6 separate regions of the Homo sapiens genome follow, and all the other regions are reported to be linked to region 6. The links are microRNA targets in miRTarBase. Many come from high-throughput screens and were not tested one by one. Region 6 holds a microRNA gene; each other region holds the end of a gene's coding sequence.
What was found. The annotated mature microRNA hsa-miR-1226-3p reads UCACCAGCCCUGUGUUCCCUAG and lies in region 6 at 1,259-1,280, opposite strand. An mRNA with a match to its seed (bases 2 to 7 or 8) in the 3' UTR can be bound and repressed. Matches are read on the target gene's strand: a 7mer-m8 pairs with bases 2 to 8, a 7mer-A1 pairs with bases 2 to 7 and ends in A, and an 8mer does both.

Region 1 (5,087 bases), not on the chromosome of region 6:
CTCTGAACCTCACCATGTGACCTGGGCACATCACCTAGTTACTCAAGACCCGGTTTTCTAATTTTTCTAAAAATAGAGCCATGCCTGTCCTATCTGCTTCACAGAATTGCTAATAAGATTTAGATTAAATGAAATTACAGATGGGAAAGCTGAAAAATATGTATGAATATTAGTTTTGTAAAAGGTTTATCCTACAAAAAGGGTTTCTGCTCTTTGTCCCTTGCCCTCTGGACTCATAAGTCTTCTGTTCTTTTCTCCAGGTTACCTGTGCATGACAGATGAGTGGTTCTCTGAGTATGTCTACGAAGTGGTGGTGGACAGGAAGCATGTCCCTGAAGAGGTGCTAGCTGTGTTAGAGCAGGAACCCATTATCCTGCCAGCATGGGACCCCATGGGAGCTTTGGCTGAGTGATACTGCCCTCCAGCTCTTTCCTCCTTCCATGGAACCTGACGTAGCTGCAAAGGACAGATCCAGGGACTGAAGCCAAAGTTATGCAAGGGACTGTGTGTTGCCACAGGACACAGTCAGATTTCCAGTCTCCACCAGGAACCTCTTCAGAAAGTGTGCTTTATGCTGAAACAGAATACTGTTAAAGGAAAAAAAAGAGGGGGGAAGATCAGGTCATACTATCTACTCTCCTCATCTCTAACAGCTCAGGATCTCTTAGCATTTTAATTAGATGTAATTGTTTGTCTTTAACTGTCAAAAAGTTTGGTTCTGTGTCTGTGTTTTAATAAGACGAGAGGACGAGCGATTGAGGTGTATGGAGAGAAAACAGACCTAATGCTCCTTGTTCCTAGAGTAGAGTGGAGGGAGGGTGGCCTAAGAGTTGAGCTCTCGGAACTGCATGCTGCTGGACAGTATCACTGTCTTTCCTAGATGGCAGTCACTGAATTCCATTTTTTCAAGGTAATTTCTTGTGCCTCTAATAGCCCAAGAATGGGAGGTTGATCAGATCTGACATGATTCCTTCCTGTTCTGAACTGTGGGGTGTGCACATCTCTGCTTGAGTCAGGTTTGAGTAGAGGCTTAGAGACAGTTGGGTGAGAACAACCAAAATCTTATCATGGTCTCAGTCATAATCATTAGGGGGAACTCTAGCCAAATGGTTTAACTTCTGCCTGTGGAACTGGGGATTGGGTGGGCAGGAAAAGGTGATATCCATTCTTTCTGATAACTAGATGGTGCTGAGAAGCTTTTGAATAAAAACTTTGCTAAATGAGAATAAGCTGATTTATGTGATCTGTCTGAGAAGTGTTTGTTTATCTACAAAAGAAAGCAGCCAGGTGGCTCATGTTCTTGAAAGTGAAAAAACAGGAAAAGGGCTTCCCTCTTCAGCTTCTCTGCAAGATGTGTACTCTTTCCCAGACCGCCGATTCTCACCGGCATCTGCAAAGGGCTTCCAAGCGCCTGTTTAAGAAGGACTGTTCCCCTACCGCATAAATGTTCTACCCAGATCCAGGGTCCCTACAAGGGTGGGGAGTGAGGCTCTGTTGGGCCCAGCCTTAGAATAGGTCAGTAAGTTATCTTACTGAGATTGGGCCACCCTTTCAAGAACAAGGGTAAAATAGAAAACATTTTCACAAAAAAAACTGAATTTGCCCCAACAGAAGGGAAGTGATCAGTATGGAAGGGTTGAAATGTATCAAGGAATGTAGAATAAAGAACATGATTGTTATGTTGGTCAGCTACACAAAAAGCAACTGTAGAAGAGTCTTAACAGGGTTGGAAAAAAGGTAAAACGAAAATCCATGAAGGTAGCAGATAACTAGGGAGGGGAGGTAATTGGAATGAACATACTCTAAGATCCTTGTGTCTTTCAGGAAGAAGATAAATACATTGTTTAACTTCAGACTTTGGTATGTAAACCTGTGCCAAAAACTTCTATAGTATCTACTAAAAATAAGCAGAGGATACAGTTTTCAATCAAGAATAAATAGAATGGAAAAATGCAATCAGTCAAGAAGACAAGATAGGGTAAAGAAAAGGCAGGACAAATAGAGCATCCAAAACAAGATAGTAGAGAGAAATCTAAATGTGCCAATAATTATATGTAAATGGACTAAATGTTCCCGAAAAAAAAAATGCCAAACTGTATTTTTAAAAGAAATCCAGCCATATGTGATGACAAGAGAGAGACATAGGCAACCTACAATATAAGAAAGGATGGAAAAGATACATCAGGCAGATACTAACCAAAATAAAACTGAGAAGTTATACTCATAACCCACAGAATTAAGGCCACTCCAAAGTAACGAAACAGACTGTCTAATTTCAGTTTATTTGCATAAACTGTAATGTGAATGTCCTCCCTGGAGCTGTGGAACACCACAGCCCTGGAAATAGGCTTTAAGACAAAAAGCATTACTACAGATCGAACCACTACATAATGATATGCTTACCCAATTCTTCAGAAAAACAAAGATTCTAAGTTATGCACCTAATAACATTGCCTCAAAATATGTAAAACAAAAACAGCTATATGGAAAAATAAGAAATCCAGCATCATAGTGGGAGATTTTAATATGCTTCATGTAGACCAAGCAACAAAAAATTCAGGAAAGTATATAAGAGATTTAAACATTTAGCAAGTTTGGTAAAATGGACGTGTTTAGAAGACCACATCTTCATCCTGAAAGCACAGATGTGTGGAAACCAATGACCGAGCATAAACCTGTTAAAAAAAAAATTGCATCTAACAACTGCACATTCATTTTGATCACCTATGGAACTTTTTCAAAAAGCGACCATATACTGGACGGTAGAGTCAATCTCAACAAATTTGAAAGGGTTGTTACCACGTAGACCACACTCCAACCACAGTGCAATTAAGTTAGAAACCAAAATTAAAAGATTACAAGACGACCTCTGTATGTTTAGAAATTAACTCATGGGTCCAAGAAGAAATCATGAAGGAAATTTAACCTGAACAATAATAAAAATATGTCAAAACGAGGGATGCAGCTGCAACAGTAATTTAAAGGTTTTACAGCATTAAATTATTACATTAATGTATTAAGATTATAGAATTTTAATTAGTTCTGAATAATAGAATGTAAATTCTAAATCTAAATATCAAAGTTATACTAGGATGTAATAAAGGCTGAAAATTGAGCTAAACATCTGTTTCAAGAAATTAGAACAGCAAAATAAACCTAAAGGAAGTAGATATGCACAGAAATTAAGCATAGCATCAACGAAGCCAGAAGTTGGTTCTTTTAAAGAAAAATTGACAAATATTAATTTTTTTAAGTACACAGGGAATTAAAAGGATATTATAGATGCTGCAAATATTAGAAAAATAGAAGATACTCTCAACTTTCTCAAAAGCAACAGTAAAGGGATTTGTTTAGAAGACAAATCCACAAGCTCGGGAAGACCAGGAGAGGAGCCAATGAAATATTTGAACCCAGAAAGCAGATGGAGACCTTGGAAGATTTAGCAGAGCTGAAAAAGTTGAATCTCACTGAGCCAGTGGTGGAGAAAGCCAGTGATAAGCAAATCAATTTACAGTGCATAATCCCCTGAAAAGCATAGATATGGTAGCAACAGAAAGCATTCTGGAATTGGGCGTGAAGGGAGGGTTACCAAAGAGTTGAATGTCTGTTGGGTCCCCTTCCTATACCGACCGGCTTGGTGATGCCCTTCCTCCATTCATCAGTGCATTAGAGATTTCTTTTCTGGAGAGAGAAGAAGTGTGTAGTCTAGGTGTCAGGTGAATCCCCTAAGTGAGCATTTACATTCTGAATCTTCTTGCCATCCTTGGCTGCTAGAACTCTAGTAGCCAGGAAATTGGAAGTCTTCTCAGGAGCAACTCGATTAGCTCAATAGGCAAGACGTAAAAAACGACTTTATGGCCTAAAGAATGATTTTATGAGGCTAGCATAACCCTGATAAGGATAGTGAAAAAAATACATGTAAACCTCACCCATAAACATAGATGCAAAAATCCTAAACCAAATGCAGCAATATGTAAAAAAGATAATCTTCATTACCAAATACTTAATGAAAGCCATTTTTCAAATGAACTTAGGATCCAGAGGGGAGAAATGAAGCATGGTGGTTTTATCTTCTCTGCTAAAGATTAGGGAAATGGGCTGAAGTTGTAGCTGGAGGTCTCAGTTGGAAGAAACTGCTAGTATTTGGGTGACGAATGAGGTAGGAAATGGGAAGGCATGGAGTTGTCTTTTGCTTTAACTGTGAATCATACAGTGTCACCAGAGGAGAGCTTCATGACTGGCCTCTGGGAAGTCCTGGCCTGAGTAATGGTGACCCTACACGTCCAAGAAGCCAAGGCATGATAATGAGACATGCCTTCAGGATGTGGTGTGGCCCATCTGCTTGCTTTGGCTTGTCCTTAAAGAGCAGCTTAATTCTAAGTTGCTGTTGGTGGCACCAGGGCACTTGGACTTGAAGTCCTATTCCTCTAGTGTGGTGTGGGTGAGCACCATTGCCCACGGTGGCTCTAGTTAGTCATTTGTTAAGTTAGATACTTTTTAAAGTGATTCCAGATGAGCGTGGTCATATTTAGGACAACTTGTTGAGAACTGTTGTTGATACTCATGAAGCCAATGGCTTCCTTCTTGGGGTCTGTGACACAAATGGGTTGAAAACTAGGATTAAACTGGCCGGGTTTTTCTGTTTTTCTTTTTCAAACTCCAAGTCCTTTACACATTATTGCAGAGGGAAAGGAAATAGGGGAATGTTCAATTCACAACAGCTGCAGCTATTTGGTCTTTGTTTTGTCTTTTCTTTTGAGTCTCATTCTGTCACCCAAGCTGGAGTGCAGAGTACAGTGGCACGATCTCGGCTCACTGCAGCCTCCACTTCGTGGGTTCAAGCAATTCTCCCACCTTAGCCTCCAGAGTAGCTGGGATTACAGACATGCGCCACCACAGCTAATTTTTTTTTTTTTTTTGTATTTTTAGTATAGACAAGGTTTTGCCATGTTGGCCAGGCTGGTCTTGAACTCCTGGCCTCAATTGATCTGCCCGCCTAGGCCTCCCAAAGTGCTGGTATTACAAGTGTGAGCCACTGCGTCTGGCTAGCTGTAGCTATTTGGAAAGAGGATTGTGTGCAGATGGGA
Region 2 (5,072 bases), not on the chromosome of region 6:
AGTCCTGATGCCTGGCACAGGTCTGCCCATGGCTGAGGATGACTCTAGGACAGTCACTTCCTGTCTGGGCCTCAGCTTCTCAGATGTTAAGGCCCGCCATCTCCACCATGTGTCTTTATAGGATGTATAGATAGAGAAGGCCTGTGTTTACCTATTTGCACATTAGCTCTTTGCCTTGGTCTTGACATTTTATTTTTATTTCATCACTTTGTTGCATGTACTGTATTTTTGTAAAAAGATTCAGGGTGTAAATAAATAACACATTCACCATTTCTTCCATAGATCCCAGCTCTCCTGTTGGCTTCGTGCTTGGGGTAGATCTTCTTCACATATTCCCCCTGGAAGGAGCAACTTTTCTGTGCCCTGCTGACGTGACTGACCCGAGAACCTCACAGAGAATCCTCGAGGTGCTTCCTGGCAGGAGAGCAGATGTGATTCTGAGCGACATGGCGCCCAATGCCACAGGGTTCCGGGACCTCGATCATGACAGGCTCATCAGCCTGTGCCTGACCCTTCTCAGCGTGACCCCAGACATCCTGCAACCTGGGGGGACATTCCTTTGTAAAACCTGGGCTGGAAGTCAAAGCCGTCGGTTACAGAGGAGACTGACAGAGGAATTCCAGAATGTAAGGATCATCAAACCTGAAGCCAGCAGGAAAGAGTCATCAGAAGTGTACTTCTTGGCCACACAGTACCACGGAAGGAAGGGCACTGTGAAGCAGTGAGGATTTCTTGTGCCATTTTCATAATGGTCATTAGCTCCTTTTAAGCTAGAAACGTAGCCTGAGCTCCTGAAGAGTTCCTGGGAGATTTGAGCTGATTTTGGAGATGGAGCAGGACAAGTGGGGAGTCTCTCTCTCTCTTTCTCTCTCTCTCTTTTTAACCAAAAAGAGATGACAAAACTAAGTTCAGGGGCCATGGAAAATGAAAAAGTCCGCTATATTGTGATTTGGGAAGAGAAAGTTATCAAGAGAAAGAGGTGAGGATGGAAGGATGGAGAAAAACAGACTGTGGGAAGGATCAGAAGGAATCCGCCGAGGCAGGGATGGGTGTGCCCATGTGTGCCTTGACGGGACTTCATCTTATAGACTGTTAAACTGTCACACACAAACAGGCTTTCCACCCCTGCTCTGAGAGCACCACGCACAGATTTCCAGTTCTTAGTGTGGCTGTTTAAAGTAGAAAATCTGGGGGCTGGGTGAGGCCACTCATGCCTGTAAACCCAGGGCTTTAGAAGGCTGAGGCTGGGGGATTGCTTGAAGTCAGGAGTTCAAGACCAACCTGGGCAACATAGCAACACCCCCCATGTCTACAAAAATGAAAAACCAAAAAGCAAACCAAAAGAAAAATCTGAAATTTCCATCTGGGGATTAACTTCTGTCTTTCTGGTGAACAATATAGCAATTCACGCATTCTTCAAGCAGCAAAAGTTCCCGGAACAATTAGGGAAGACGTATGGTCTGAATTTATCCAGGCAGTGGGTCTGCTTTGGTTTTTGCTGGAAATTTATATCAGTGTCTGGGCTCCCAAGAACATAAATGTAATTGCCAAAGCAAGCAGTGATGTGGTGTGTTTATTTTCTTTTACTCATCTAGGAACTTGACGCAGCTTTATATTTAATAAAATAATAGAGATTGCATTATTTTAAGGTACTTTCATGCTTTGAAGTTTTGTTTTTTTTAAACTGGCTTCCTCAAAGCCATTTCCTGGAGGTGTACTCATCCCTCAAGAAGAGTTTGTTGACTATGATTAAATTCCAAGGACCAGTGGGGGAAGTCTGGAAACCCAGGAATCTCCATCAGGAATCTGGGGCTCTGTCCAGCTCCCCGAAGGAAACTGCGGGTCAGATGTTTTGATTTTTTTTTTTCTTTGAGAAACAGAATCTCACTCTGTCACCCAGGCTGGAGTGCAGTGAAGTGATCTTGGCTCACTGTAAGCTCCACTTCCCGGGTTCACGCCATTCGGCCTCAGCCTCCCGAGTAGCTGGGACTACAGGCGCCCATCACCACGCCCGGCTATTTTTTTTTTTTTTTTTTGTATTTTCAGTAGAGACGGGGTTTCACCGTGTTAGCCAGGATGGTCTCGATCTCCTGACCTCGTGATCCGCCTGCCTCGGCCTCCCAAAGTGCTGGGATTACAGGCGTGAGCCACCGCGCCCGGCCGCCAGATGTTTTGACTTTTCATTTTATTTCTGGTTGCAGTCAGGTTGTTAAGTCCAGGGACTCTTGCCCTACTCCACCTCGTTCTCTTATTCCATTTCATTCCCGGGGCACACAACTTGGAAGTCTTTCTCTGAAAGAAGGAAAATTCATTGCAGACCCTTAGGAACAGCATCTTCTTAGAGGGAAGCCAGGGGCTGGGCAGAGACGGGAGGAGGAGAGGAAGAGAATATGGAAACGAGTAAGGCACACTCTTCTCAGGAAGGCTCCAATTTGAAGGATAGACAAAGGTTACCATAATAATGGTGGGGCCTGACCTCACCCCATTGGATGCTGTGCCCTGGCTTGCAGAGCACTGGGAAGGTAGCCTAGTAGCATAAATTGCATTTCTAGTGGGCCCAGAAAAAAGCAAAATAACGGATTGATTCAAGCTGATACTGAGTAGCAAAATTTTGGGAAGAGTCAACGGTGCAAGTTTGTCCGAGGAGGCTGCCGTGGGCGCGGCTATTCCACACATTACGGCGCGAGGCGAAAGCCTTAGTGGAAGCGCGTCCTGCGCAAAGCCGGGGGGCCCCCGACTGCGCCTTGGCTCAGCCTTCGGTTCCGAGTCCTTTCCGTGCGGAGTCTCCCAGGGGTGGCGGCTCCGGGTGCGGACGCGGAGTCCCCAGGATCAGCCGGTGCGCAGACTCGGTTCTTTACGGCCCGATTGCCACGCAGGTCTCGCGAGAGCGCAGGCGCAAGTGTCGCGATAAATGGGCGCCGGCGGAGCGGAGGGAGATCCGAGCGGCGGCGGCAAGCTGGCTGCGAGCGGCTGAGGTAAGCGGCCCGGCTCGCGCGGGCGGCGGGGTCCCGGGGTCCCGGGGGTCCCGGGAATGGCAAGGGAGGGGCCGAGGGCCCGGACCGGGTGTGCTCGCCAGGGTGGGGCACAACGACCCAGACCCCGTGCCTCAGGACCCCGCGCCCGCCCCGTCTCCCATGGGCGCGCTCTCCTCTCTGTGCTCTCCCCTCCTCTCCCCACTCCCCTGTCCCCACTCCCCCTTTGGGCTGTGCTGGGGACAGCGGGCCCCTCGCCTGGGTCTCCGCAGCCGTCCCTTGTGCCAGGGCGGGCGGCCGAGGGGCGCGTGCTCGTGGTCCCAGCCCCGGGGTCCCGCTGCCTACCGTGTGGGTCCCCGGGCTAGGGTGCCGGCGCGCCGAGGAAGGGGCCTGAGCTGGCGCCTGGTGGAGAAGTCGGGGCTGCAGGGGCTCTTGGCATCCTGGTGGCTCGCGCCGGTCCGCTCTCAGGAAGGGGGCGTGTGGGCCCGGTTTCCCCTCGGGGATGGCAAGGGCCACCCTGATCTCGTTTGGGCAATGGAGGAATTGGGCTGTGGAGCCTCCTTCCAGGCGGGCCTGCCTCTGCGGGGCTGGCAGCCTGGGGAGCTCAGGCCTCTGCTTGCACCAGGCCAAGGTTCTTGTTAAATGGAAACTCAGAAACTGTGCAGCTGCAGAAGTTCTACCTTTGGCTTTTAAACGCGCTTGGCTGTTCCCTAGTTGTGGCTGGTGGGCCGGCCTGCCATGAGCCCATAGTAAGCGCCGGTGTTGGGGGTGCAAAGTTCTTTACTGCGGTTTGTCTTCAGCCTTCCAAAGCCAGACAGACCCAAGTTCCAATCTCCGTTCTGTAACTTTTTGAAGCTTCGGTTTCATCATCTCTAGAATCTGTGTAAAAAGACCTAATTCACCACCCTGTTGAGACTGAGCTTACAAATATAGTGCTGGTCAACCTGCAGCCGTATTCCCATCATCTAGCGGTGGAAGACTTGAGGGATATTGGCCCCGTTCCCCACAACTTTGCAAGTAGATTTCACTGTCATGAGTTTACAGATGAGGAAACTGAAGTTCAAGAAGTCTCGGTGCTCGGAAATGTCAGATACCTTTCTTTCTGATACCTAGTTGAAAATAGTAGTAGTACTTATTAATGTCACTAGAAATAAACAATGAAAATGAGCACAGCTGTGATGATCATCATCTTTACTGTCACTGTTGCATGCCTCGTTTCTGATTCCCAGAGGCCAGATTTTTTTTTTAATTAATTATTATTATTTTTTGAAACGGAGTCTTGCTCTGGCACCCAGGCTGGAATGCAGTGGCGCGATCTCAGTTCACTGCAACCTCCATCTCCTGGGTTCAAGAAAATCTCCTGTCCCAGCCTCCGGAGTAGCTGGGATTACAGGTGCACGCCACCACATCTGGCTTTAGTAGAGATGGGGTTTCACCATGTTGGCCAGGCTGGTCTCGAACTCCTGACCTGTGGTGATCTGCCCATCTTGGCCTCACAAAGTGCTGGGATTACAGGCATGAGCAACAGTGCCTGGCTTATGTTTATTTATTTATTTATTCATTCATTTATTTATTTTGAGACACTGTCTCACCCCGTTACCCAGGCTGGAGTGCAGTGGTGCGGTCTCAGGTCACTGCAACCTCTGCCTCCCAGTTTCAAGCGATTCTTGTGCCACAGCCTCCTGAGTAGCTGGGATTACAGGCGCACACCACCACACCCGGCTAGTTTTTGTATTTTATTAGAGGTGGGGTTTTGCCATGTTGGCCATTCTGGTCTTGAACTCCGGACCTGCCTCCGCCTCCCGAAGTGCTGGGATTAGAGGCGTGAACCACCCTGCCTGGGCAAGAGGCCAGACTTTGCTGTGAGTGCTCCTGGTAGGTAGTTTCAGGCATCAACTGACTGGATTCAGGAATTCCTAGAAACCTGGGAAAGCATCATTTTTGGTTTTGGGTGTGCCTGTTGAGGGTGTTTCCAGAGGAGATGAGCTTGGGAGTCTGAGTGGACCAGGTGCTGAAGATCCATCCTCAGAGTCAGGGGCAGTATCTAAGAGCCTGGGGGCCTGGAGAGGACAAAAACAGAGAAAAGGCGAATGTGTCCAT
Region 3 (5,087 bases), not on the chromosome of region 6:
ACAGTGCCACATTGGTGGATGAACCCTGGACGGAGACTGTATGTAGTCCAAGTCCTGCCATGAGTCCACAGACTGAGTGAACTGGGCCAAGTCATTCCCGTGTTTGGAGATCCCCCTGCTTGGGTGAGAAGGAGGTCTTGATGCTGTTTGAACATGCTGTTTACTTTAGTGATGTAATCTTGCTTCATGGGATAACTTTAAAATCCAATTTCAGATCAGCCCATGGTCACGAATCTTTCCCACTTTCCTTTGACAGAAACCCTGAACATTGTCCTTGTGGGGAGAAGCGGGACTGGGAAGAGTGCGACCGGGAACTCTATCCTGGGGAGCCTCGTCTTCACCTCTCGGCTCCGGGCCCAGCCAGTCACCAAGACCAGCCAGAGTGGCAGGAGGACATGGGACGGACAGGAGGTGGTGGTTGTGGACACTCCTTCCTTCAACCAGATGCTGGATGTCGAAAAGGACCCATCCCGGTTAGAAGAGGAGGTCAAGCGCTGTTTGTCCTGCTGTGAAAAAGGGGACACATTTTTTGTCCTGGTGTTCCAGCTGGGACGATTCACTGAAGAGGACAAAACAGCTGTGGCGAAACTGGAGGCCATCTTTGGAGCAGACTTTACGAAATACGCGATTATGCTGTTCACCCGGAAGGAAGACCTAGGGGCGGGGAATTTGGAAGACTTCATGAAGAACTCAGATAACAAAGCCCTTCGGCGCATTTTTAAAAAGTGTGGGCGGCGAGTTTGTGCTTTTAACAACAAAGAAACAGGCCAGGCCCAGGAAACCCAGGTGAAAGCTCTTTTAACAAAGGTCAATGATCTGAGAAAAGAAAGTGGGTGGTCCGGGTATCCCCATACACAGGAGAACGTCAGCAAACTAATTAAAAATGTCCAGGAAATGTCCCAAGCCGAAAAACTCCTTAAAAATTTAATAGGTATTTTACAATAGGTAGCCGAAGTGCCTGGGGTCTCTTCAATTAGAGACACCCTCAGGTTGGGGGGAGGGGCGGGGCATGGTACAACCTGTGGGAAGGGAAGCGGGTTCATGGCTTTGAGGGCCTGAGAGGCAAATGCATCCCGCCTTGTGATGTATCAGCTATTTGTAGATAAATAAATTGCAGGTGGGGGCGAATAGTAGGGTATTATAAAGGAGAAAGAAGATACAAGGTGGGGAAATCTGGAAAAAGATTTCAGACATTAGGCTGATAATAAGTGGTAGAATCAAGTCACAAGAATCACCTCACTTGTGTAGGTAGGTTGGAATCAGGATAGACACTGTGATCAAGGCTGAGGCCACCTGGGATGAGAATATAGATAGTCGTACAACAACCCAGGGGATCCAGATACATGAGACCAGGGCAGCGTTCAGCACACTCCTGGGCATGGCGGAAGCAGGAAGCAGACTCCAGAGGGCCTCCCTGTTGTCCAGGGCCGTTGGCTCCCTGAGCTCTCCTGTCTCCTTTGGGATGCGACTTAGGGCTAGAGTGTTCTTTTCTTCACACGTTAGCCATTCCTTACGGCTCTTCACGTTCCACGCCTAGATGTGAAGTGGGACATAGTCTTCCATTGCTGGCTGTCCCTGAGGAAACAGACATGAGTCTTGGAGGTTCTGAATGATTTTATTGCTAATTATCACAGTGACATAGACTAGAACAGAAATTAGAAGCATAGTAAGATTGCCAAAATCAGAGAATCTTGCAAAGTTCTGTAATTCTAAGTGTTGTTCTAGATTTCCTCTAGAGAAGGTTATTAGAATCTCCATTGCGTTTCTCTTTCTCCTTCTCTTTCCCTTGAGGTTAGGAAACAGGTTAAAACTCAGAGAACTCCAATAATAATGGTTTAAAAACATCAGGGGCTTCCTGTATCTCCTGTCAGGAAGCCGAGGAATAAGCAGGCTGGGGCTGGTGGGCGTCAACATCCCAGTTTTGTTCTATCTTTCTGTCCCACCTGCACTGGGATGTGGCTTCTACACTCGAATTTGCTTCTTGGTTTCAAGACAGTGGTGTTCTTTCCATAGCTGAGCAGATTATTTTGAGAGGTGGGTGATATGTGAGAGAGAAATCTGGAACCTTCTTCTGGGTAGATACAGGATAAGATAGATACAGGGTAAAATGTTGAGCACTTTGTACATGCTTTGAGAGCATAATCTTTGTCATCTGTTTTTTTCCCCTAGACAATATCAGGTTACCGTCAACATTAATCCATTTAAAAGGACATGGACTGTTGCCATTAATACTTTTGGATTCCATATAACCCTTAACACAATAACTTCTAGAAAATGTGTGTGCCGTAGACACAAAGAAGGGAACAATAGACACCAGGGTATACTTGAGGGTGGAGGGTGGCAGGAGGGTGAAGATTGAAAAGCTGCCTATTGCGTGTTATGCTGGTTTCCTGGGTGACAAAATTACCTGTACACCACACCCCTGTGACACACAACTTACTCATGTAACAAACCTGTGCATGTACCCCTTGAACCTGAAATAAAAATTGGAAAGTAAAAAAAAGTGTGTAAATATATTTAGTTGAATCAAATAATAAAGATGAATCATTATGAATTCACATTCTCTTTCTGATTTCTATTTTTGTGATTTAGGGAAGCAGCATACCTTCATGAAGAGACAATTGAGATGTTTAGATACCTTGACTCAGGCGAGGTTTTTGTATCTTTGGTGCCTGAGGACCTTCATTTAGACTGGGTGACAGCCATTTGTGTGGCAGGTCCCTGACAGCTCAGTTATCTTTCACTCTGGACATCTAAGTATAGCAAGGACAAATAAATGTAACCAGTATTAGAACCAGAAACATGGGAGGAATAAGGTCTGAAAGGCATTTTGTGCTTCTTCCCTGAGCTTCCCTTCTGCCTGAAGGCAGAAACAAATCCCAGTGTGCTACCTATGGCTGAGCAGGTGACACTGGGAGCTGCACAAGGTGGGTGATGTGTGGGCTAAGCAATGTGGCATCCTCTCACAGGTTGGCTCTAACATACCTTGCTGTTTTCCTTCAGGTCCAAGTCTGAACGGGGCAACAATACTGCTGTGTCAGTTTCTCTGAGAAATACATGCCGAGAAAGAGTTAGGAGCACAAGAGGTTTATGGGGAAAGCTCATGAAAGACAAAAGAGGGAAGAAGCCAAATTGGGCAGGGAAAGCCTTCAGACTGTCATTTAGACTGGACACTTGCAAGAGAAAAGTGGGGAGGAGCTGAGTTGGGCAGGAAGAGCCTGGCAAAGCCCAGGCCAACTCAATAGGGAATTCTGGGGCAAAGACAGATTAATAGCCAAGTCCTGCATTGGACAGACACTAGGAGCTCTGCTGTGCTCCGCTTTAGGCTGGGGACTGGCTGGAGAAAGCATGGCTTCAGCTCAGAAGCTCAGATGGGACCTGACAGTGTTGCAGCTGGAGCTGAATGGCAAGTTTCTTCTTGAAGTGAAAGCCTTCAAGAGTGGCATCCCTTCCTCACTGCCATAATTGGCGGACATCCTCCATGTCTCACTGAAGACCCTCCTTGAGCTGGAAGTCCAGAACTGATATTCTACTCTCTCAAACATATGTGTCTTACCAAGGCCACTATCATGCTGGCCACCTATTGCTTGTCCTGCCTCTCCAATGTGACATCATTGAGGTAATGTGCTAGTTCTCAACTGGAAACAATTTTGCCCTGTAGAAGACATTTGGCAATTCCTGGAGAAATTTTCTTTTTCTTTTTTTGGAGACGGAGTCTTCCTCAGTCACCCAGGCTGGAGCGCAGTGGTGTGATCTGGGGTCACAGCAAGCTCCGCCTCCCAGGTTCATGCTATTCTCCTGCCTCGGGCTGCCGAGTAGCTGGGACAACAGGCGCCCACCACCACGCCCGGCTAATTTTTTTTAAAAATTACTTTTAGTAGAGATGGGGTTTCACTGTGTTAGCCAGGATGGTCTTGATCTCCTGACCTCGTGATCTGCCCGCCTTGGCCCCTCAAAGTGCTGGGATTACAGGCGTGAGCCACCACACCCAGCCTCCTGGAGAATTTTTTAGTTGCCACAACAGGGAGTGGGTGCTACTGGTATGTGGTAAATAGAATCCAGGGATGCTACTGAACATCCTAAGATGCACACGACAGTCCCCCACAACAGAGTTATCTGGACCAAAATGTCAATAGTCCCAAGGCTGAGAGACCCTGATACAGTGGACCAATGTGATAGACTGCAGGATGTACAGATGATCCAGACCTCTTTTGGTTAGAGAGTGGGAGAGGTAACTTCTAAGGAAATGTTTTTTGCCTATTTACAGTGCCTCTGTTTTGCTGATGCACTAAGAACATGCTTATTTTTCACAAAGGGTCATCCAGCACCCCCAGCCTCCTCTCCTTCCTCAGAGCAATCCTTTTCACTTCATTTCTCTCTTTTCCTGCACTGAGCAAGATTTACTGAAGAACAAGGCTTTTGTGATGAACTTAGCATAAAGAGTAAAAAAAAAAAAAATAGTTTCGTGATTCCATGACGACAGAAAGTCCCATAAAATTTGGCTAAATTTCTGCAAGGGAGTCAGCTAAGTTGCTGACATGATCTGTGAAGCCTGCCAGCAAGCTCACTTCCCTAGAAGAATCCCCAGGCCACTTGGCTATGAGCCTCTTCTCCTCCTCCCTCAAATGAAGCATCCACCTTTTCAGTAAAAACCCTCTCCTTCCTAGCTCATCCTTACATTAGCTTGTTCCATGGGCCCACTGGTCCAGCCTCTACCACTAGCACACTATCATCCTCCCTAGCAGATGAAGGCATCGGCAGGCCCACCTCCCGTTCTCCCATGAGAGGCAGCTTGATGTTCATGAGAAACCTCCGTGGCCTTCACTCTTGCACCTCTGTATTTCTGTGAATACACACAGGATGTGCTCAACAGACTGGTGTAAAATCTAGTTGTGAACAGCATGATCAGCATGATACATTTTCCTCTTCAGCTACAAACTTCCTGTTTATTGCTCTTCACTTCACATCGTCCTCATGTATGTTGGTGGGTGGTAGTGTGGCGGGCTTGCGTTTCCTGACCCACAGATTATAGGGCAGCGTGTAGGCTAGACTAAAAGGGGTCAAGCCAGGGCCAAGGTGTCATGCCT
Region 4 (5,077 bases), not on the chromosome of region 6:
GTATTTTTAGTAGAGATGGGGTTTCACCACGTTGGCCAGGCTGGTCTTGAACTCCTGGCCTCAGGTAATCTGCCAGCCTCAGCCTCCCAAAGTGCTGGGATTACAGGAATCAGCCACCATGCCCAGCCTATTATTATTTTTTAAGACAGGGTCTTGCTGTATTGCCTAGGCTAGTCCTGCACTCCTGGGCTCAAGTGATCCTCCGGCCTTAGCCTTCCAAAGTGCTTGGATTACAGGCATAAGCCACCGTGCCTGGCCCAGCATCTATAAATATATAAAGGAGAATTCTCACCTGTGCCTTAACACCTGGAGGGGGCCGGGCGCAGTGGCTCACGCCTATAATCCCAGCACTTGGGAGGCCGAGGTGGGTGGATCACGAGGTCAGGAGTTCCAGACCAGCCTGGCTGAGATGATGAAACCCCTTCTCTACTAAAAATAGAAAAATTAGCCAGGTGCAGTGGCAGGCACCTGTAATCCCAGCTACTCAGGAGGCTGAGGCAGGAGAATCACTTGAACTTGGATGGCAGAGGTTGCAGTGAGCGAAGATCGTGCCACTGCACTCCACCCTGGGTGACAGAGTAAGACTCCATCTCAGGGAAAAAAAAAAAAAAAACCACCACCACCACCAAAAAAACACCTGGAGTGGGGATGACTACCTCACACAGACACACACACACACAAGAACTTATATATTTCTCCTATAGTGCTAAAACCAAAGATTTTGCCTAGCTTAAGAACCACATTGTCCAGCTTCTTTTGATATGCATGGTCATAAGAATATGTTTTGACCCTTTATATAAGGGGCAACAATGAGTACAGCCTACTGTATTGGTCCTTAAAGGAAAGGGATATATCTGTCCCCATTGTTTGTTTTATGCAGTCATAATACTACATACAAATCTATTCAGTGGTAATACTACATACAAAGGATGAAGGGCCTAGAACAGTATTGGATCACTTCAGTTAGCTGAGTTACAGCCTGGGTCTAGAAGACCTTTGGAGAAGCATACTGCTTCTGCTAATGCTAGTTTTTGGATTGCCAGGTCAACTTAAAATGTTAACTGTTTATGTTAAAGAATCTATTATCCTAGCCTTCTCTAATTTGCAGGTCTGATTTAGGTAACTCCCCCAATTGAGAGATGCCAGTACTATCTCCAAGAGCACTTTCCAGGTAACCTTTGTTTACCATGAGCCAAAGTGTGAAGTGGCTATTGCAAGAATGGCCAACTCACCAAGGATAAAAGCTAGAATTCAGTAGGCACTGATAAATGGTCACAGAAAATCTTTACCAAAATTTAAATTACAAAGAACAGAACTGACAGTTTTATAACTGATGTTTTAAATTTAAGTCATTTATTTTACAAACAGAGACTACCTATTATACTTAAGACATTGTGTTAGATCTTTGCCAAAGACATGGTTTAGTCATACTAATGTAATCCATTTTTTAACTTTCCATATTAATTTAATTTTTAATTCATTTTTCTTTATGCTTGCTTCAGGGGCTACATCTGGGACTGAATAGCAGCATATGGCCCAAGGGCTGTGGTTTTGCCACTCATGCTCTATACTCTAGTCTCTTCCAGAGTTGAGTATAGCAGTCACTATCTTAATACAGTGTGTCACTATTTTATTACCTGCAGAGAAACAGATTAACTTCCTTTATTTAATACTGATAAATAGAAAGGCTTTTTCAAGAAAAAAAAAGAAAGCTTACATTTACAAAAGTGATTTATGCTAATATGTGCCATTAACAAAGACAAATACTGAAATCCACACAAAATCAGAATTAACTTCTACAACTAAAAAAAAATTACAGGGTAATAAAACTGTAGGAAAAGCTGTATGTAAAAAGAAAAAAAGACAAGTCCCTATGTAGCTAATTACAAGAGAATATTGTAAATACATTCAAAAAGTTTTCCAAAAATCCTGCAGCCTCATCTAGAAACTGATACATGTTAAGATTCTTGATCTATACCAAATTATAATGTTAAAGGAAATCATGAAAACTGAGGTATATATTTGATGCATTAGAAACTATCATTTGAACACTATTTAAATAGTTTAATTATAAGGTCTAATTTCAAGTTAAAGTCTGTAAACGGAGATTAGTTTGGATTATATGACACAGGAGACAATAAAACATGTTCTCAAAGACATGCCAATACATTTTCTTGAAACAAAACCTCAGCAAATGAGAATTTTCATACTGTGCATGGGAATAACTAAAACCTTTATTAGATATGATTTTCCATTAACAATAATGTGAAAATTAGAATTATGAATTCAAAAAGCAGTGAAGTCTGAAAATTTAAAAAGTAGACTAGGTATTAGGGGATTAAAGGTAAAGGAAGACGAGAATGTTTCTTTAATACTATTCATTATTTCCCCTCTGTACACAATGTTGCATATATACAACTACTTCATTTTTATTGACTTTATATAATAGTGAAATCCCTTTAAGCAACCTAGGGTATACAGTTGGTGTCCAACTTTCAGGGGATTTTCGGGGGGGAGTAGAAACACTTGATTAACAGTTTTCACCCACACACGTTAGACAATTTTTTTCTTTTTTTGCCAAGATTTTAGTAGTAAATTCATAAATATAGGAAATACTTTCACTCCTTCAGTGTTAAAATAGAAAACCAAACAGTGCCAACAGTAGTGGCTTAATTATTGGTATACAAGAAAAACACAACAACAATGGGTTTTCTTAATTACGCATTTTAAATATCAATATGTGCATTTGTTTTTACAGTTATAAATTTTTTTCTCACCTGTTTTAGACAACAGCTTGTAATAGTTTTGAATCCATTAAGATGTTGCTTTCAATTTGAAATATTTTGTGTATACATGTATATAAAAAATAACCCAATGTATGACTCATCTGACCGATGTTTAAGATCAATAACGGCTTATTTTTCAACATGCAGTTAGGAAGAGAGGGAAGCAAGCCAACCTCTCTACAGTATCTTTTTGCTGGCTTGTTTTTGTAGTGGTATCAATAGTGGTTTTTGGAGGGAACCATGTGCCTTCAGCCTATCTAGTCAAGATCAGATACCACGATCAACAAGAGCGGTAGAAGAGATGGGGAAAGGGGAGTGGGTAAGTGTTAAATATCAATTTTGTAAAGTGTGCATTTTGTACTCCTTCTAGGCACAGGATTAAAAACAGGCCAATGAGGAAAAATTTGTTATAATTAGGAAAAAACTGCAATCAAATCAAGACATAATAGCCGAATTAAGTTCTTTTAATAGATTGCATATATAGATGTTTAGCCATACTCTTAGATCAACTCTTTAAGAGCAGAACTTTATATCCAATTTACATGCTCTAGATACCACCTTTTTTATTTTTTACAGTAAGGTCTGGTATTCAAATACCCACTTGTACACTGACAGCTTTAAGAAAAACAGGACACAGAGGGAGTTGTCATTTTTAGCAGCAATGAAATACCACTAACCCCTTTTTACATACCGAATTCAAGTCACTATCAGAGGTGAGTGCACCACAAAGTCACCAGGTACAAAATTGCTAGTTCATTTTTAAATTAATAACTTGAAATTACCCCTGCCCCCCACCCCATTACATCTTTTTATAAACAGCAAACATTTTGCTATTTTATACATAGGCTAGCAGGCTTGTTTCAATATGAAAGTGCTAATTCATTTACAGATTTTTATAATCAGTTATGTAGTGCTACAATAAATGTCCAATAATCTACATAGGAACAATGATGAAAATGATGAAGACTGAATAAGGCTATCAGATGACCTTATCTTATTTACATATAAAGAATAGATACCCAATGGTGAGGAAGAGACAGAAATTGGACAAATACTCATAGGTGTAAAAATTACATCTACCTTTGAGTTTTATACTGTAAATGAGACATTTTAAATAGTCCTGTAGCCCATGCCTATTTTTTCCTCAGAAAAAGAAAAGCTGCCTTCATGACATCCCCTCGTTTCAGATTTCCACAGTGTCACTTTGAAGCTTCAGAGTCAGGATCTTACTTTCTTCAAAAAATAAAGAAAATACTCCCTCTAAGGTACCTCCCATCCCCCCCCACCCCCAAAATCCCGCTGATTTCTTTTCCAGTGCCAGGTTGCATGATCAGGTCCCATCTCCTGGGGTTGTTGTTTCTTTTGTCCATCTATTGATTATTAGTTTAGAATAGATAACATGAACCAGTTCTGGAACCACTACTAGGAGGAACACAAGCTCTTCACTACAAGCACACAGCAGGAAAGAAAGAGATAACTCAATTCATCCCTGGTGCTGGGCCTCCAAAATTGAAAGAACTTGGCACAACTGGAGCACTGAATTTGTATCCTCCATGCTTCTCAATCATTTTGGATTCTAGAAAACAAATAAAATTTTAGTAGGGCATTCAATCATCTACTAACTTGGTGAGAAACTGACAAAACATTAAACAAGCCAGTAGCTTAACCATCATTAGTGGCCAGGAAGTTCCAAAATCCATGATTTCTCCAATGTATAAGGGCAAGGGAGCATGCATTATGTAGAGAATATAATCTCTTTTACTGTATGCTGTAGACTTCTTAGCCAATTTTCACTTCCCACTGTTAAGAAAAAAATCTTTTTTTTTTTTTTTTTTTGAGACAGAGTCTGGCTCTGTCACCCAGGCTGGAGTGCAGCGGCACGATCTTGGCTCACTGCAATCTCTGCCTCCCAGGTGCAAGCGATTCTCTCCTGCCTTAGCCTCCCAAGTAGCTGGGACTACAAGTGCGTGCCACCACGCCCGGGTAATTTTTTGTATTTTTAGTAGAGGCAGGGTTTCACCATGTTGGCCAGGTTGGTCTAGAACTCCCGACCTCAAGTGATCCATCCGCCTCAGGAGTCAGGAGTTTTTGAGACCAGCCTGGCCAACATAGTGAAACCTCGTCTCTACTAAAAATACAAAAATTAGTTGGGTGTGGTGGTGCGTGCCTGCAATCTCAGCTACTCGGAAGCTGAGGCACGAGAATCACTTGAAATCGGGAGATGGAGGTGGCAGTGAGCCGAGATTGCACCACTGCACTCCAGCCTGGGTGACAGTGTCACTCAAACAAAT
Region 5 (5,087 bases), not on the chromosome of region 6:
CCGAGGTCCGCGAGCTGGTGAGCCTCAAGCAGGAGCAGCAGGCTTTCAAGGAGGCGGCCGACACGGAGCGGCTCGCCCTGCAGGCCCTCACGGAGAAGCTTCTCAGGTCTGAGGAGTCCGTCTCCCGCCTCCCGGAGGAGATCCGGAGACTGGAGGAAGAGCTCCGCCAGCTGAAGTCCGATTCCCACGGGCCGAAGGAGGACGGAGGCTTCAGACACTCGGAAGCCTTTGAGGCACTCCAGCAAAAGAGTCAGGGACTGGACTCCAGGCTCCAGCACGTGGAGGATGGGGTGCTCTCCATGCAGGTGGCTTCTGCGCGCCAGACCGAGAGCCTGGAGTCCCTCCTGTCCAAGAGCCAGGAGCACGAGCAGCGCCTGGCCGCCCTGCAGGGGCGCCTGGAAGGCCTCGGGTCCTCAGAGGCAGACCAGGATGGCCTGGCCAGCACGGTGAGGAGCCTGGGCGAGACCCAGCTGGTGCTCTACGGTGACGTGGAGGAGCTGAAGAGGAGTGTGGGCGAGCTCCCCAGCACCGTGGAATCACTCCAGAAGGTGCAGGAGCAGGTGCACACGCTGCTCAGTCAGGACCAAGCCCAGGCCGCCCGTCTGCCTCCTCAGGACTTCCTGGACAGACTTTCTTCTCTAGACAACCTGAAAGCCTCAGTCAGCCAAGTGGAGGCGGACTTGAAAATGCTCAGGACTGCTGTGGACAGTTTGGTTGCATACTCGGTCAAAATAGAAACCAACGAGAACAATCTGGAATCAGCCAAGGGTTTACTAGATGACCTGAGGAATGATCTGGATAGGTTGTTTGTGAAAGTGGAGAAGATTCACGAAAAGGTCTAAATGAATTGCGTGTGCAGGGCGCGGATTTAAAGTCCAATTTCTCATGACCAAAAAATGTGTGGTTTTTTCCCATGTGTCCCCTACCCCCCAATTTCTTGTCCCCTCTTAAAGAGCAGTTGTCACCACCTGAACACCAAGGCATTGTATTTTCATGCCCAGTTAACTTATTTACAATATTTAAGTTCTCTGCTTCTGCATTTGGTTGGTTTCCTGAAGCGCAGCCCCTGTGAATAACAGGTGGCTTTTCATGGATGTCTCTAGTCAGAGAAAAATGATAAAGGCTTAAATTGAGGATTAACAGAAGCAGATTAACCTCAGAAATCCTGTCTGGCTGGCAGATTTCAAGTAAAAAAAAAAAAAAGGTGGGTTGGGGGGACCCTTTTCTTTCTAGTTGTCTTTAAGGAAAATTAATTTTACTTTTTTTTTTGTTCTGGCCGAAATTTTTATGAGATATCTCTCACTTGTCTTCCACTTTGAACCGGTTAAAGCTCATAGCTGTCAGCTCTGAATGAGGAGGGGAGAAGCCCCTGGGTCTTTCTTTGAAAGGAATCCGCTGCTTGAGGGCTGCCTCCCTCATGGTGTGCGTGTCGTTTCTCTTCCTGACGCATCTTGTGATATCAGAGGTAACTATGCAAAGCATCCAGGCGGTTCTGAATGTGAAGCACTACACCCAGCAGAGTCCCGGTGCCCTCTGTCCCCACTGCCGGCCCATGTTCTCTCTCCGGAGGTCACCAAGGAATGCACAGGTTTCGACTACCAGAAAGGGGAGTCCTTGGGTTCTTTCAAAAAATTCGTGAGGAGAGCTGTCTACAGTGGAATAGGGGGTCTCCCTGGGGAATGCAGGCCAAGTCCTTTTATTTTAACATGATGTCCATGAAGAGGTTTGCCGTCTGGGCAGCCCTGTCGGCAAGGAGCGTGCATACTGCGTTTGTGTAATTGTTTGCTGTATCTCCCTTCCCTCTGAGCTGTATTGTTCTTTAATGGCTGTCTTGCCCTTCCAAAAAAAATTGAAAAAAAAAAAAAAAAAAAAACCCGAAAAGTAAAAAAAAAAAAAAAAAGTTTTGTTTAGTTTACTGTGAAATGAACTGTATGGCTTATTTACAGTATTTTTAATTCTTAATAAACACTTGAGCTTTGTTATGACTTTTCCAGAGTGGTTACATTCTGAGAATTTCGTAATTATGATGTGTTTTATTAGCACATGGTATAAACGATTAGCAAATAGGTAAGTTTACTATTTTAAGGCTGTTTTTTCTTTTAATTCTGAAACCGAGATGGCCTCACTCTTGGGCCGGGGACCTCCTTTGATGGACTGTTAGCAAGTGTGTTCAATGATTACTTGTCTCCAGCTCTGTTAGCTTCAAGCACAGGATCTCAACCCTCACTACCTATTAGAATCTTCCTAGGAGCTTTTAAAAAATGCCTGGGCCCTGCCCGCACAGATGCTGATTGAATAGGCATAAAGAGGCTGGCACTGTTTTTTTTTTTTTTTTTTTTGAGACAGAGTCTCGCTCTGTCACCCAGGCTGGAGTGCAGTAGCAGGATCTTGGCTCACTGCAAGCTCCGCCTCCCGGGTTCTGGCCATTCTCTTGCCTCAGCCTCCTGGGTAGCTGGGACTACAGGCGCTTGCCACCACGCCCGGCTAATTTTTTGTATTTTTAGTAGAGACAGGGTTTCACCGTATTAGCCAGGATGGTCTCAATCTCCTGACCTCGTGATCTGCCCGCCTCGACCTCCCAAAGTGCTGGGATTACAGGTGTGAGCCGCCATGCCTGGCCAGCACTGGTATTTTAAAGGCTCCCTCTCTGATTTTAATGTCCAGTCAGGGTTGAGAACCAGTGTCTCAGACCATCTGAGTGACCTTCAGCCCTAGTGCACACCTGGGCTTGTTTCCTTCTCTGGATTGCCTTCCACCCTCCACCCAATAAAAACCACATGCTGTTTATTGAGTACCTGTGTGCCAGGTCTTGTGCTCAGCATGCATAATAACCTGTTATTCCTTCTTACAGTCCCCCGAGGTAGGCAGTATCATTTCCCATTTCACAGAGGAACAGCAGGCTGAGAAGCTTCATACAAGGTCATTCATTACGAAGTGGCAGGGCTAAGCTTTGGACCTCATCCTTGCTCTAACTGGGACAGCATCCTCTACCGTCCACTGACACCAGTGCAGGTCCATTTGGCCTGTGGAATATCTGTCCTGTTCCAGAGCCCAAGGCTGCAAGAGATTTCTTCTTTCCCACCTAGGGAGTAGAGGGTGGCTAGGACCTGAGGTCCTGTGGCTTGATGTCCCCCTTTCTGGCTGAAAGGCCCCTCATCTCTGAATTGCTGTCAGTCACTCTGGGTCCCTCAAAGCTTCACAACTCAGAGCTGGAAGTTTTTTCCAAAGCAGTTAGCAAATCAGGACAGGCTCTGTAAATAATTTCTATTTTTATTTCAAAACCATTTTACTTTTTATTTTAAAGTCTTAAGTATTGACATGTATGCTTTAAATGGCTACTTTCACCCACTTGGGGAGGGTGCGGAACAGCATAAAGTCGCAGGCATGGAAAAAATTAAATTCATTTCCTTTTCAGGCCAATTGGTTGCATTGAGTATGTTCTTGCTGTTTCTCCTGTCATTTCTGCAGTTGCTCATCTCTGACTATGGAGTGGTTTAATAGATTCTCATTAATATTATAAAAGAAAATATTGACAAGTGTCTGATAAATATAAATTCAAGTGGTGAAAATAAAAGGAATATATTAGGAATTCACATATTTCTGATGGTGGGGCAGTTAGAGTTCTTACACCAAATAATGCAGCTCAGTCTTGTTTCTTCATTCAATATAGTGTTCATTCATTCAATAAACATTTATTGGGCTGATAGCCAGCCATTTTGCTAAGTATCAGTGAATTAAAATGTACAGGACTAGCCCAGTGGGAATGACAGTCATGTAAAGTGGTAGGTATTAGAAATACAGGTGCCATACTTGGGTGTATTGGGCCAAGAGGAAGGAGTGACCATTGTGCCATGGTTGGTCTAGAGGTGGTTAGAACAGGTTTTTGAAGGGCTGGGGGAAGTCCCTTGGAATGCTTTCATGAGTAATGGGAAGCTTCGGGAAACAGGTTGTTTTGCCCTTTGAACAAACAATATACACAAATTACTGAACATGTTGGTTAAATTGCAGATCCAGCACCAGGATAAGAGGCTGCAGTGAAACTTCTCAGGCAGGACTGACAGCACCCTGGTGAGGAGACTACTACACCACTGACCATGTGGCCTTGGGCAAGTCACTTAGAATGGTGATGGTGTTGATAATAGAGATGATGGTGGAGATGGAGATGATGATGGTGGTGATGAAGATGATGTGATGGTACAGGGTGGTTGTCAGGACTGAATGAGCGTGTTGAGGGGTTAGCACAGAATCTGGCACATCATAAGTGCTTCAGTGATCATGCGTGCATGGATCATACCAGAGGTTAAAATGTTGAAATACTGTTGTCCTAGTTGGTGAATAGCTTCTGCCCTGAACCCCCTGCATGTCCTCTCTCTGGACCACTATACCTCTTTACAATCCAGCAACTAATAGGTTAATATTCTAGTATAGCAGAGACCACAAGACTCTGCTCCAGCCCCAGGGCCTGCATTTGTTCTGATGGGTGGGTGCCCATCAGATTAAATATTTTGAAGTTATCCTTCCTTGTGAGCTCAATAATTTGTGTGTGGGTAAGATTTGTTTCAAAGAAGTGACTATATAATGAGGTGGTAAAACTTGAACCCAGTTCTAAAAGATAGGTAGGGTTGTCAGGTACCAGGCAAAAGGTACTGGGTTTGAAGTAGTCAGGAGAGTTGAGAGGCTGAGCACAGTTCTTGCAGTTGGAATAGAGAAAGCACAGGTGGGGAGTCGGGTGGAGATGGGGTAGGAGGGCTAATGGGGCCAGGACCTGGAGGCCTTGCATGTCATCCCTGAGAGTTTGGATCTGAACTATGAGGAATAAACAAAAGGGTTTAAGTGGGGCAGGGGAAGTAACCATGGTCAGAACTGGGTTCTAGAGTGCCCCCGCATTGGCAGGATTGGAGGAGAGCAAGGGGAGGGCAGGTGGACATTGGGAAGTCGTGGTCCAGGCTGGGTCCGATGTGCCCTGAGGATGAGGGTTGTAGATGGATGTCAGAGATGTGCCAGGTTAGATGCTGCTGAATGCATGTGGGGTGAGGAAGGGAGAGGCCTCTAAGACAACAGCCCTCCCAGATTGGGAGAGGATATAA
Region 6 (5,000 bases):
GGATCCTCCACTCCAGAGCACCTGAGAAGGCCGGGACCAGAGGCCCTGTGTGATGTGTACTCCGCAGCTGTTTGGGGTGGGACATTTCTGTACTTCTCGATTTGCTTATGGCTCAGCCATTACCTGTGTCAGTCCATGATTCTGTTGTAACAGTTTTAAGAGTAAATAAATAAAGCTGCCTGATGTCCCATCACGCAGGCTTCGTGCTTCTGTCTCGTTTTGCATCTACCACCTCCCTGGATCTTCCTGCCCTCAGCTCAGCCCCTCAGCTGTGAACTTGTGGATGTGGACACGGGAAGGACCACTGTGCCACATAGCCCTGCGCCTTGGCTACCTGTGGAACTCTCCCCTAGTCTGCCTGATAAAGGGCTACTTGACACTTACTTGCTTACTTACTGTCCAAAACTACAAGGACAGTGACAGTTCTGACAGGCTTCCTGTGGTGGGTACCGAGAGCAGCAGCTGTGCCAGGGGACTGGGGTGGTTAACAGCACCGCTGCTTCATGCTCTTTCTTGGTGAAGGGAGGAGGTTCCAACCCCCTTCTCTCTTAAAAGACTTGGGGCCACAGCCAGCCCGTTCCCCAGCAATAAGCATCTCACTCTCTTCTCTACCTACCTTCCTCCTTCCTCTTTGGGGAACCGTGGCCCAGTGTATGGAGGCCCTGAGAGAGGAGCCCCTAGTGGACAGCAGTGGTCACAAGGGATAAATAGAACTTTATTTTAAATAAACATTTGCACTCTGTACACAGCCCCAGCAGAAGCAGGGCTCAGTCGTCAGCTGTCTTGCGCACATCAAAGCTGCCACAGGGTCCTCGCAGCAGCTCTGCCAGTAGCGCAAGCAGCTGCCCGTGCTCCTCCTGTACGCTGGGGGGAAGTGCAGCCAGCTCGCTGCGCAGGCTCCGCTCCACCATGCGGCCCAGGGCCCGCCGCAGCTCCTTCAGCAGCCGCACGGTACGCGAGTCACCCTCCAGCCGCAGCAGGTCACTGTCGCTCAGTGAGATGGTGGCCCGGCGCCCGTCATCTGAGGGAATGGAAAAGATGGTGGGGAACTGTGGTGAGGCCAGGCCCCGGAGGAGCAGCTGCAGAGCGGGGTGGGCGGGAGGCCTGCAGGCACCCACCACGGATGTGCACGTCCCCGTCGGTCAGCAGCAGCACAGCTAGCGGGTGCACCTGAGAGGAGTCCCGGACGAAGACGCTGCCATTGGACTTGACTGCCATGAAATACGTCAGCCATCGGCTCCGTAACCGTGTGGCCTCCCTAGGGAACACAGGGCTGGTGAGGCCACCCTTTTGGACCATCCCAGCTGCCCCATCCAGGCCTGCATGCCCTCACCTGTTAATGGTCGACTTGTGCAGCAGGATGTTGCCTGATTTGGTCCTATATGTGACGCTGTTGGGCTTGAACTTCCCCTGCCGGGTGACCTTGCCCTGCCTCACCTGCAGGGATGGAGGAAAAGACGGGTGGGGCTGAGCAAGGAGCTGCAGACAGGGAAGGAGGCTGGGACCTGGTGAACTCCATTCCCTCCCAGAGGCAGCACCTGGATGAGGTTGGGGTAGAGGCCGGCCATCAGCACGCCCTTCACCAGCTCCTCCTCCTCACTGTACTCGTTGCACTGGGCGGAGGCCAGGGTGCAGTCCGAGGGCTTCCCCACCAGGAAGGCCTCATAAATGTTCTCTGAGAACTGCTTGATGAGTCCTAGGGAGACAGAATGTGTGGTGGACCTACAGCCCCTAGCCACAGGCTGGAGGTGACAGAAACTCAGTGGGGGTGGGAGGGGCTCAGGAGAGCAGGTGTGGGCCCGACTGACCGTGGATGAAGCGCAGGCTGGGTGCGTACAGCAGGTTTTCCTCCAGGTAATTCTCCCGGGAGCTGCGGTCCTGCCAACGCAGCACCTCCTCCCAGCCGGCGACAGCCCGCACAAAGGCCAGGTGGTCACTGCCGCTGTCATGGCTCAACAGTGCTTTCACCTGGGAGGGGAGAAGAGGGCAGCCGGATCACAGGCAGGGGCTAGACAACGCCCCCTCAGAACAGCAGTGGGTGGACGGCTCCAGGAAGGAGCCAGGACTGACCTTGTCCACCTCTGCCCGGTTCTGTAGGCTGCTGCTGAAGGGGTCCCGGGTGAGGCAGGAAACGACCACCAGTAGTGGGTGCAGGCAACGGAAGATGGCAGCCAACACAATGGCCTTGGCCAACCGGGGGTCGGTGGAGATGTGAGCCAGGCGCTGCCCCAGGGTAGTCAGGTACTCCCGCTGGTCCAGCACCCCTGCAACGGCTCAGCTGTCAGTACCACCCTCGAGAGCCACTCCCCAGCCCAGCCCAGCCCAGCCCCTACATACCGATCTCCTGGAGCAAGATCACAGCCTCGTCCACTGCCTTGATGTTTGGACTGTCCACAGCCTTGGACAGGAACTCCACCGCCTATGACAGAGCCAGAGCCCGCCATGAGCCTGCCTCCCACCTGCCTGGTCCCCAGGCCAGCCCCTGCCCCGCCCCGCCGCACCGTCTTCTCAGGCATGTGGATTTTCGCTTGCAGCACCAGGTTCTCAAGAGGTGTGCGCAGGATCTCTGGCACTTGGAAAGGGACCATTTTCTCCAGCCGGCTTCGAGGGAACAAGTGGTAGGCAAAGCCGGACTGGCAGCGGCCCGCCCGGCCCCGGCGCTGGATCACATTGGCTCTTGATACCCACACTGTCTCCAGGCAGGACACCTGGAGGAGGTGGCAAGTAAGCAGCACACAAATGCCACTTCCTCAGTGCTTCCCCACTCCCTGAGTAACCCTCACCAGCCCCCTACATCAGGAACACTGAGACCCCACAAGCGCGGCCTTCTGAAGACACACAAAGCAGGTCTAAGGTAGATCTGGGCTGGGGACCACCTCAAAACGGAGTCCCTCCCCCAGTGGTTGGCCGGGCCCAGGAGGTAGGTGCCACCTTGGTCTTCAGGTCATAGCGTTCTTCCTTGTGCAGCCCACTGTCCACCACATGCACGATGTCATTGATTGTGATGGAAGTCTCAGCAATGTTGGTGGCCAAGACAATCTTGCGCACCCCAACTGGAGGCTGCTGGAATATGGCCTTCTGATCCATCATGGGGATGTTGGAGTGCACTGGTGGGCAAGACACACACCAGTTATGGGCACTGCTTCCACCAGAATTCCCCCCTGGAATGTGGGCAGGGCAAGGATTTTGACCCCATTTTGATGAAACAGGCGCAGATAAACACTATGCCCAGTGAAAAGTGCCACAGCTTGGTCAGAAACCGGGGCCCCTGGAGTCCCAGTTGGGTCAGTCCCTAGGACAGAGGTCAGGCTGGTTTCCAAAGGTCCCTGGTCCCTCCGCCGGGGCTCTCACCTGGCAGGATGAGGTACTTGCTCTCGTGCATGCCCAGGGCCTCCTGGAGGCGCTGCTGCACTCCTTTGATCTCCTGCCACCCAGGCAGGAAGCACAGGATCCCACCTGTAAAGGAGCCCTGGGGCATGAGCCAGCTGTTGCTGCAAACGTGGCCAGGGCTAGCATGGGACAGATGGGGAGGCACCCACCTGGTTCCCCGCGAGCATCGATGTGCAGAACCAGATCAGTCACAAGGTCCAAATCGAGTGCGCATTCATCCTCAGACTGGGGTGGGGGAAGAGAGGCCACAGTCACAGCCCCGGGGTAAGGGGTCATGCCAAGGACACAGCCACCTGACTCAGTGAGACGGAGCCGCTTGACATCAACTCCAATCCTCACGTGTGCCACGCAGGCAGGGTTAGTCCCCAGTTTCTATCAAGGAAACCGAGGACTGGGGAGGGTAACTTGCCCCAGGCACCAAGCCCCAGGGCCAGGGAGGAGGGGCATCCACGGAGGAAAGGCCAGGAGCCTTGGGTGGGATGGGGGTGTCCCTCACCTCATGGTGCCGGTGCCGGTGCAGGTACTGGTGCTTGCCCAACTTGGCCAGGATGTCCTCTAGGTAGTGCTCCTTGACTGGGTACATGAAGCCAGGCACCTTGATGACGGGGCAGCCACCAAAGTATCGGGAGAAGCGCTCATTGTCCCCTGTGGCACTCATGAGCACCAGCCGCAGGGCCGGGTTGAGCCGCTGCAGGCCCTTGAGCAGGATCAGCAGAAAGTCTGTGTTCACGTCCCGCTCATGCACCTCATCCACGATGACGTGGCTCACGCCCTCCAGGCTGGGGTTGCTCTGCAGCTTACGCAGCAGGATACCCACAGTGCAGAAGAGCAGGGCCCCGCCTCGGGATGGGGGCTTACTTTCCAACCGCACCTGGAAGCCCACATTCCGGCGCAGGGAGGGGCCCAGTTCGTGGCTGACCCGCTGTGCCACAGACACAGCAGAGATGCGGCGAGGTTGGGTGATGATAACATTGCAGCGGGCACCTCGGCCCTCGGTCACATAGCGCTCCAGCAACAGCTGGGGGATGCGCGTGGTCTTCCCACAGCCCGTGTCCCCAGAGATGACCACCACCGGGTGCTGCTCAATGGCGTTGAGGATGGTGTCCCGATGTGGGTCCACAGGTAGCTGGGGGGCCTCCTGCCAGACCGGCCCTCGCCGCCGCCACAGTTCTAGCAGACTCTGGCTGAGACGTACCTCCTCTGCTTCCAACAGGGGCACATAGGGCTTGCCTGTGATAGGGTCACTCAGAGGCCCTGAGTCCTTGCCCAAGGGCAAGATGTCATCACTCTGCAGCCGGAGTTCTGGGGCGATCCATGAACTCTCCACAGGGTACTGGAGGGCAGGGAGGCAAGCAAAACAATGAAAAAGAAATTCCTCATTCACACACAACCAGCCACTCTGCAGGATTCGCCTGGGTCAGATGTTGTGGCCCAACCCGCTGGGCAGAGGATTAATTTAGTCCATGACTGCCCCGGGATCCTTGTGGGCAAGACTGGGCTGTTCAGGCCAGGGGGATCCCAGGCCCCAAACTCAGTGAAGAGAATGGGGAGGTACTACTGCCTGTCGCAGGTGGAGGCCTTCAGTCTGGAGAGATGGAGGCAGACTACAG

Region 1: the mRNA of BLMH is a reported target of hsa-miR-1226-3p. The part of its 3' UTR that is shown has no 7-base or 8-base seed match.
Region 2: miRTarBase lists MRM2 as a target of hsa-miR-1226-3p. Seed matches in the 3' UTR shown: 7mer-A1 at 1,386-1,392.
Region 3: miRTarBase lists GIMAP8 as a target of hsa-miR-1226-3p. Seed matches in the 3' UTR shown: 7mer-m8 at 1,897-1,903.
Region 4: miRTarBase lists IPO7 as a target of hsa-miR-1226-3p. Seed matches in the 3' UTR shown: 7mer-A1 at 3,517-3,523.
Region 5: the mRNA of CKAP4 is a reported target of hsa-miR-1226-3p. The part of its 3' UTR that is shown has no 7-base or 8-base seed match.

What each region holds. Positions count from the first base shown.
Region 1 is chr17:30,244,342-30,249,428 of GRCh38, reverse strand. BLMH (bleomycin hydrolase) reads left to right here. Exons shown (of 12, transcript NM_000386.4): 12 at 261-1,226. The coding sequence ends at 412. The region is part of intron 2 of LOC105371720 (a long non-coding RNA gene); the gene reads right to left. Among named protein-coding and RNA genes, the nearest start is that of SLC6A4, 11 kb to the right of the region's middle. RefSeq lists an enhancer at 1-972.
Region 2 is chr7:2,230,775-2,235,846 of GRCh38, reverse strand. It overlaps MRM2 (mitochondrial rRNA methyltransferase 2), which reads left to right. Exons shown (of 3, transcript NM_013393.3): 3 at 283-1,652. The coding sequence ends at 725. It overlaps MAD1L1 (mitotic arrest deficient 1 like 1), which reads left to right and starts at 2,902. Exons shown (of 19, transcript NM_001013836.2): 1 at 2,902-2,975. RefSeq lists enhancers at 1,517-2,049, 2,784-2,913, 2,699-2,993 and silencers at 2,628-3,006, 2,984-3,403.
Region 3 is chr7:150,476,836-150,481,922 of GRCh38, forward strand. It overlaps GIMAP8 (GTPase, IMAP family member 8), which reads left to right. Exons shown (of 5, transcript NM_175571.4): 5 at 257-2,558. The coding sequence ends at 945. Among named protein-coding and RNA genes, the nearest start is that of GIMAP8, 29 kb to the left of the region's middle. RefSeq lists an enhancer at 60-1,259 and a silencer at 2,710-2,944.
Region 4 is chr11:9,444,382-9,449,458 of GRCh38, reverse strand. It overlaps IPO7 (importin 7), which reads right to left. Exons shown (of 25, transcript NM_006391.3): 25 at 1,332-4,362. The coding sequence ends at 4,265. Among named protein-coding and RNA genes, the nearest start is that of ZNF143-AS1, 14 kb to the left of the region's middle.
Region 5 is chr12:106,234,779-106,239,865 of GRCh38, reverse strand. CKAP4 (cytoskeleton associated protein 4) reads left to right here. Exons shown (of 2, transcript NM_006825.4): 2 at 1-1,985. The coding sequence ends at 842. Among named protein-coding and RNA genes, the nearest start is that of CKAP4, 11 kb to the left of the region's middle.
Region 6 is chr3:47,845,888-47,850,887 of GRCh38, reverse strand. It overlaps MIR1226 (microRNA 1226), which reads right to left and starts at 1,333; the gene lies at 1,259-1,333. DHX30 (DExH-box helicase 30) reads right to left here. Exons shown (of 22, transcript NM_138615.3): 11 at 3,887-4,723; 12 at 3,540-3,615; 13 at 3,352-3,456; 14 at 2,932-3,107; 15 at 2,502-2,708; 16 at 2,338-2,419; 17 at 2,071-2,264; 18 at 1,809-1,968; 19 at 1,539-1,696; 20 at 1,334-1,437; 21 at 1,119-1,258; 22 at 695-1,021. The coding sequence ends at 768. It overlaps MAP4 (microtubule associated protein 4), which reads left to right. Exons shown (of 21, transcript NM_001385682.1): 21 at 1-193. RefSeq lists a silencer at 3,616-3,717.